Linked DNA regions of Homo sapiens. The protein of the gene in region 1 interacts with the protein of each later gene in a pairwise test. Each region holds a gene or a part of one and is shown in the gene's direction. Other genes may lie near its edges.

Region 1 (3,742 bases):
AGTTGCTACTCTTTCCTCAAGACCTGCGTCAACTGTTACCTCCTTTAGGAAGCCTTCTGTCTCCTGGTCAAGGGACATGGCCCCTCTGCTGGGCCCCACAGCTCCACATTACTGATTATGTGGCCATTGAGGTTCTTTGTTTTGTTTTGTTTTTTGAAGCAGGGTCTCACTCTGTCACTCAGACTGGAGTGCAGTGGCACGATCATGGCCCACTGCAGCCTCAACCTACCAGGCTCAAGCAATCCTCCTGCCTCAGCCTCCCGAGTAGCTGGGAATACAGGCACATGCCACCATTCCTGACTAATTTTTTAATTTTTAATTTTAGAGGTGGGGTTTCACCATGTTGCCCAGGCTGGTGTCGAACCCCCGGGCTCAAGCAATCCACCCACCTCAGCTTCCCAAAGTGCTGGGATTACAGGCATGAGGTACCATGCCTGGCAGCTTCTGAGTCTTAACCCCAATGGATTAGACTTTCTGGAGGCCCTGTTTCCCTATCACCACCCCAACCTGGTCTTTAGGAGTCAGGAGTTAGTCCAGGGCTTGCTGGGGAGTTGGCGCAGTGACTGAGCAGCCCCCATCTTCCTACCAGGGCGTGGGTTTGCCCAGATGTACAGGTGGTCCCCTAGCTATGCCCTCCCGTTAGCCCTCTTCTCCACTGTCCTTAGTAGCATAGTCACTGCCCTCTGCTTCCATGGCCCTGGCAGGTCTGTCTGATGGCTAGGAGTCCTTTGCTGGAGGGTCTGTCCCCTGCCCACATAGGTGGTTGTCCCAGCTTTTCAGAGTTCCCTTGGCTTATCACTGGGCCTGCTTCAAAACCCTTTACTTGGGACCATCCTGGGCACCAGGCCCTCAGGGCCTCCAGAGAGGGCATCTGAGACTCATAGAGAATCAGCTTGAAGCTGGACAATCACTTTTTGTTGAAATAAAAACTGCTAACGTTTGTGGGGCACTTTATTGTGTGTGCCAGGCTCTGTTTTGAGGATTTCTAAACACTGGCCTCCTTAATGCCCAGAACAGCACCCCGAAGTGATGATTAATCATCCCTTTTCTGTAAGTGGGAACAGGGAGACTCCAGAGTTTGGTAACCTGTTCAGGTTCCCTACCAGTAGCGGGTGGTCAGCCTCAAAGCCCAGGCTGAAAGCCATCCAGCATGAGGGCTGAGGACCCCAGCAGGCACCAGAGGGTCTTTGGAGAGGTCACAGGTTGTCAAGTGGGTGAGAACAGGGCGGGGCAAGTTCAGGACCAGCCAGGGCCTGGGTGTTCAGGCAGTGGGAGAGTGGATGCTGGCACCAGTGCCATGCTGGGATCTGCAGGCAGCTTCAGCCACAGCCTTCCGGGGCTGATTTCTGGGCATGGAAGTGAGAACCAAAAGCTGGGGCAGGGAGCACCCTGGAGGGATAGCCGGGGAGCAGGTAGAGGGCCAAAACCTGGAGTGGGGGCAGGAGGTGCTCCAGCAGCAACTCCCCCAGAGGTGGGTCCCAACCTCCACGTCGGCCAATTCCAGGTGGCCCCACCGGGTTTCCCCCACCCCTTTGTCCCGCGGAGCCCCTCCCTCATGAGTGCTGAGCCCAAGGGCCAGGCTGTCCCCAGGGGCGGAGAGTTGCGGACCCTTCCCGATCCGGTAATGGGCCTGGGAGATGCCAGATTAGCGTGGTGCCTGTCCGGAGAGACGGGCCAGCTGATGCCCAGGTCGGGGCCCTGCCGCTGGCCACACTGGGCTCCGGTCCAAGGCTAGAAGGCTGGCCCCTGCTGCAACCCCTCTCCGGCTCCTCTGCCACCCACCTCCCGGGGCTGGCCGGCTGTGGGGAGCCAGGCGGCCGCAGGTAAACGGCTTGGGGCGGCGCCGGCGGCGAGGGCGCTGCACGGAGGGAAGCGCGGCGCCGGAGGGGTTAACCGCGGGAGGAGGGGGGCTTCTGCCGGCGGGAGGGGGGTCCCAGCCCCGGCGGCCGCCCGCTCCGCCCCTGCCGCCTCCGCGGCCCAGTCGGCACCGGCGAGGCCGTGCTGGAACCCGGGCCTCAGCCGCAGCCGCAGCGGGGCCGACAGTAAGTGCGGTGCGGGCTCCGGTGCGCGGGCAGGACTCAGGGGCAGGGACGCCCCAGGGGCGACTGGCCGGGCGGGGTGCCCACCTCTCGCGCGTGGGCGCCTCCGGGAGTGGTGTGGCCGCCGGTCCCGCCGCCCGCCACGCTCCGAGGCGTCGCTGTGCGGACGCGGGGGAGGCGGTGGGAGCGAGCTGCGGGCGCTGCGCGGTGGCCCTGCTGTCTGGCGTGTGCACGCTAGTGTCCACACACGTGTGCGTGGGCTCTGGGTGCCCTGGCGCGGCCGGCACGCCCATGGGGGCCGGGGATGCCGGGGCGTCTGCGGAGAGTGCAGGTGGGGTGCGTGCGTGCAGCGGGGCGGCGCGGCGCTGCAGCCTCGGGATGGAGCGTGGGCGCGCGGGTCTTTGTGCCCGCGCTTGGCGGCGCGTGCCGGGGCGTGTGTGCGCGTGGGCGCCGCCGCCCGCTGTCTCGGACTGACAGCTGTCTCGGGGGCTGTCGCCCCGGTGTGGCCTTTGCGGACCCCCGCCCCGCTTTTTCCGGGAACTGGGCGTCCCCAGCACCCCTCCTCGCCTGGGTGCGGCGGCCGGGACCCGCCCCTGGGTTCCTCGAAAGCCCGGCGGGGCGCGGGGGCACCCTGGAGGGCCAGCCAGGAAGCAGGGCGAGGCGAGAGGGGACGGAGAAGCCGCGGAGATGCTGTCACAGCCGCAGCGGGCGAGCAGGGACCCACCATTCCCCTGTCCCCGCCTTGCGCTGTCCGGCCTCTCCTCCGGGTTTCCCTTCGGACGCCTCCGAGCCCCCTCAGCCTCCTCCTCGAGGGCCAGCTCCCCGCACCCCCACCAAGCTCCACACATTTCCTCGCTCGCCCCGCTTCCCCCTAGGCAGGCTTAGGCTCTCTTTCGGCCTCCCACTCGCCTTCCTTTCCCTTCTCGGTGCCCTCCTCTCTTTCCTCACCCGGTAGTCCCAGACAGGGGCTGAGGGCCGGGCAGCGGAGGTAAGGGGAAGGCTGGAGATAGGAGGGGGACTGGGTGTGTCCAGCCAGAGGGATGTCTGTGGACAGTGCAGCTGGGGGCTTTATGGATCTTTGGGTGTGTAGGGGATAGAGGAGGAGGGTGTGGGTGTCAGGCCAGCTCAGTGACCCCAGCATCCCTGGTTTTGCCCGCAGTGACGACAGCTCCCCAGGAGCCCCCCGCCCGGCCCCTCCAGGCGGGCAGTGGAGCTGGCCCGGCGCCTGGGCGCGCCATGCGCAGCACCACGCTCCTGGCCCTGCTGGCGCTGGTCTTGCTTTACTTGGTGTCTGGTGCCCTGGTGTTCCGGGCCCTGGAGCAGCCCCACGAGCAGCAGGCCCAGAGGGAGCTGGGGGAGGTCCGAGAGAAGTTCCTGAGGGCCCATCCGTGTGTGAGCGACCAGGAGCTGGGCCTCCTCATCAAGGTGCGTGGGTGGGCCGCAGCCCCTTCAGCTGTCACCCATCACCCCTGGCGCTAGCTGTGTGCCAGTGAGGCCCTGTGCCAGTGCTGCTTTCAGATCAGTATCCCTGAGGACGGGTGCAGTGGGAGGCTGTGGGACAGAGGCTGGGGACCAGGTCTCTGTGTTTTCAATAGGGCAACTGTGGGGTCATTTGTTTTCCTGGAGAGCCTGGCACAGGACTGTGCACCTATAATGTCTCCTTCAGGGTGTGATGGTGGTGGGATGAGGGGGAAATGAATGAA
Region 2 (3,742 bases), on another chromosome or scaffold:
TCAGCTAAAGAGACTGGGCTGAGGTTCCCCCATACCAGTTGGATTTAGAGAGAGCCTCTTGTAGGGAGGCCTCATGTGGTCTTCACCTGGGCCTCAGCATGTGAGCCCTCCTTTAACAGAGAGCTTGCCCAAGATCTCACTGCTTGTTAAAGGTGGTCTCAACCCCGTCTGTCTTCTAAGCTTCCCACTACCCCATGTCTGAGAGCAAAAAGCCCTCTTTGCAACCTGAGATCACACTCAAGATGGAAGACTGTCAAGCCCATCCCTGCCAGATTCTATTAATGTGGTCCTAATGGGCCACACCAGCAAAAACAAGCTGCGTTGTATTCCTTTGAAGAAAACTAAGTCTGCCTCAGAAACTAGCAGACCCTGTAATCTTCAGCGGTATTATTAAAAAGCACACCTGCCTCAAAGCCCCTGGTTCATCCATGGAAGCATCGCAGAAGCCTCTGTATTAGGGGCAGCTTTACGGCACTCTGGGCCCCTTTTACTCTTGGCCAGGGCCAACGCCAAAGGCTAGATGGTCCATGCTTCCAGGTAGCGTATCACTGTTCACAGAAGCAGAAACAAGTAATGGGGCCACCTCCACCCCCCCCAGGTCCCTGCCCTCGGAGCAAGTGGCCAGTGCCCATGGTGCCTCGAGGCAACAGCTGCCCCTCCTGCCCCCTCCCAGTCTCTTTCCTGCAGTATCTGGGGACAGACAGGTGATAGAGTGTCACTCTAGTTACTATTGAGCGAACTGAAGAAAATCCACATGGAAGGTTGACATCTACCATACCTCACTTTCCCCTCTCTTGATAGTAAGTGTCTAATCTTTCCCTCCAACCCCTGTGGGCAAACATGTCCATGCGTTCTTTGAGTTCTAGCTACTGGTCAGTAGTTCTGAGTGTAGGATTGACATGGTGGGAGGAGGCAGAGCTTTGGGACCACACCGCCAAGGTCCCTGGGGCCTAGAGGTCCAGCGTGCCCGCCTCCCTTCCTCGCTGTGCTCCTTTCTCTCCCCCCCACCCCCACGCTCCTGGTTTCTGGAGCCGAGCTTGGGGTGGGGAGGCAGCAGGTAGGGTCTTCAAGTTGGAGAGAAACCCCGCCCACACCTGGACCTCGCCCCTCGCTGCCATTCCCAGCCGAGGCCGTCAGGGGCCTGCGTTTTGAGAAACACAATCTGGAAGAGAAAACCTGGGCCTTTTCTTCTTTTATCCCCTGTCCCCGCCCCCCTACACCTCTTACAAATTTAGCCCAGGAGCTTTCTATCCCCACCGACTTGAAGGGTTTATCGGTCTTAAGAGCGAAATCCTGGCGGAGTGCAGTCCCTCGGGGCTAGCATCCACGTTCCGCCTGCGCCCTGCCCGGGCTGTTCCGAGGGATCCCCGCAAGGGCACTGCCCCAGCTTTCACTCTTGGAGTCGGGGAAATAAGGTGTCCACAAAGGATGCAAGCAAGTCATTGTCAGTGCAGACCCGAAGGGCGCGTCCGGAGTGCAGGTATGAAAGACGGGCGCATGCGCGCAGTCCGGGGCCGGGCTTCGCAGCCCGGGCTCCGCTCTAGCCCCGCAGCGTCTCGGTGGCCGGTCTCGTCCTCCGCCCGCCGCGCGGGGGCGCCGCTCTAGCCCCGCGCCATCTCGGTGGCCGTCCGCCCACTCCGCGGCGTTCGGGGAAATGGCTGCGAGACCCTAGAGGCCTGCGGCCTGCGGTAAGTGGCGTCCCGGGCGCCGGGTAGAAGAGCCGGCCGCCGCTTGGGCCGCCCTCGGGAGCGGGGCGGGGCCGGCATCGGAGCCCGGCTGGCGAGAGCCGCGGATCCCGCACAGGCCGCTCCCGCCGAGAAGATGGCGGCCGCGGAAGGGAAGGAGCGGGCGGGCGGGCGGGCGAGCGGGCGGGGCCGGTCAGAGCCGCCGCGGCCTGGGGCGCGGGCCTCAGACGCCGGCCCTGGTGGGCTGCGTGAGGTCGAGGGGACTGGCGAGCACTCGGTGGTCGCGGCTGGAACGGTTCCGAGGGTGGGAGTCGGGGCGGCCGCTCGCGGGGAAGAGCGCAGGGCTGGCCTGGGCGAGTGCGGCCCGGGGCTCGGGGGCTGCGTAGCTGGCTTGTAAGCGCAGCTGGTTTCCCTAGGCATTCTCGGGGACCTCGGCGCTTCCTCCCGGGCCTTGGGTGCGGTCGGGGTGGCCGGCTTAGCTTCTGGCGTGCCTTCGGGGGATTCCGGCACTGCAGGGGCGGCTGGCGCTGCAGGAAGCGCGAAGAGCCCGGATTCGCTTTTCTGAAGAGTGTGTCCTTACCTCCCCGCGCTGGTTTTCAGTTTTTTTGTGGAATAGTTTGTTGCGTTGGTTTGTACTGGCCGTATTTGTGACACATTTTGCCTTCCAGTGACCCCGGAAGCCGAAAGGGCCCGCTCTTGCGCTCGGCGGGAGGGGTGCTCGTGCTGCCTCCGCTGCGGCGTCCGGGGCTCCTTCTCGCGGTTCTGAGACAGTGGAGGTCAAGGCCGGCTTTTCTGCTCTAAATAAAGGACTTTAATATATAAGTTTAGAGTTTGGGCCACAGGTAGCAGTAGCTTACTGCGTTACCAGTTATTGAAAATACTCTTTAACTTGTGCCTGGGCCTTCGATATCCGTGTCATCTGTCTGCTGATGGAATGAGATTTGAGCCTAGTGTACTCAGGGACTTAGAGGAGGGAAAGGCAGATGGGAACGTCTTTTCGGTATATTCACATAACTTTGCTATATACCCCGTGTTCCATGGTTTCCGTAGGGCCACATATGACTTGGTTGAAATACAGTTCTGAGAAAGGTCCTTAGCAGTGCCTTTTAAGGAGTAAATACAGTCTTTTTTTAAATGAGCATTCATTGCTTACTGTTAGCACGAGGGATACAGCAGTGACCAAGGTGGCCCCTGTCCCAGTCCTGGAGACAAGTTCACTGGGGAACTTGAGAGATTATTCCAGCTCCTTCCTTTAAATCAGGTGTTGCCAACTCGTTTACCTGGAGCCTAGGGCTCTTTAGTGGCCCTTTGGGTTGCTGTTAGTGTATGTGTGTCTGTGACTATTTCACTATTTTAAATACGGCATAGACATCTCAGAAGTGTCACCCAGGAAGACAGACACAGCCCTGTTGTGAAACTCCCTGCTTAATGCACACTTGTTTTCCTACTTGCTGTGTACATGGGGAGGAGATGTCTGTTCTTGTAGACTTGTTTCAGCAAGTTTCATAAGATACCTCTTGTTTTGGAAAAGCGCGTATCTTGAATTTTTTCAGGCTTTCCACCAGAGGCTGTCCCTTATTAGTAGTTGATTGAATTCAGACTATGTCAAGCAGAGCTCATTGTGCTGTGGTGAGAAGACAGGGCACAAATAAGATAATTTGTGATTGACTGCCCAGCCGTACCCATGGTTACCAGACAGCCCAGCCCATGTTGCATGTGCATATGTGAGCCTCGCAAAGGCTTGTCTAGGACGTGCGGATCATCGGTTGGGCCTTGGAGGGTGCTGGGGTTTCTTCATGTAAGGAGGAAATGATTGGAATGGGCATTGGCTCCCGTTTTGTTCGCGGTGAAGTTGGCAGGTTCTGCTGTTGATACTGTGAGTTTTTCTACAGCCTTAGGGTCATAATTCCCTTAAGGTCAGTTCTGTGGAGCCCAGTAGGGTGCTTCTCTTCAGTGTTTATTTTTAAGCTGTGCCACGTCTTCATTGTTTGGAATCTCTGTAAACAAGACACGTTTTTCCTTTTTATATGCCTGTCCCATAATACCAAGTGGCTTAT

What was found. Proteins that work in one complex are often made in the same cells at the same time.
Region 2: the proteins of KCNK4 (region 1) and DIDO1 interact in a two-hybrid assay, tested with the Homo sapiens proteins (one large-scale study listed by BioGRID and IntAct).

The regions. Positions count from the first base shown.
Region 1 is NC_000011.10:64,289,744-64,293,485, forward strand, and holds the start of KCNK4 (potassium channel subfamily K member 4), read left to right. Parts: upstream 1-1,558; 5' UTR 1,559-1,823; intron 1,824-1,978; exon of another isoform or gene 1,979-2,042; intron 2,043-2,254; exon of another isoform or gene 2,255-2,375; intron 2,376-3,198; 5' UTR 3,199-3,275; coding exon 3,276-3,464; intron 3,465-3,742. UniProt on the Homo sapiens protein: K(+) channel that conducts voltage-dependent outward rectifying currents upon membrane depolarization. Voltage sensing is coupled to K(+) electrochemical gradient in an 'ion flux gating' mode where outward but not inward ion flow opens the gate.
Region 2 is NC_000020.11:62,924,378-62,928,119, reverse strand, and holds the start of DIDO1 (death-inducer obliterator 1), read left to right. Parts: upstream 1-1,614; 5' UTR 1,615-1,681; exon of another isoform or gene 1,682-1,688; intron 1,689-3,742. UniProt on the Homo sapiens protein: Putative transcription factor, weakly pro-apoptotic when overexpressed. Tumor suppressor. Required for early embryonic stem cell development.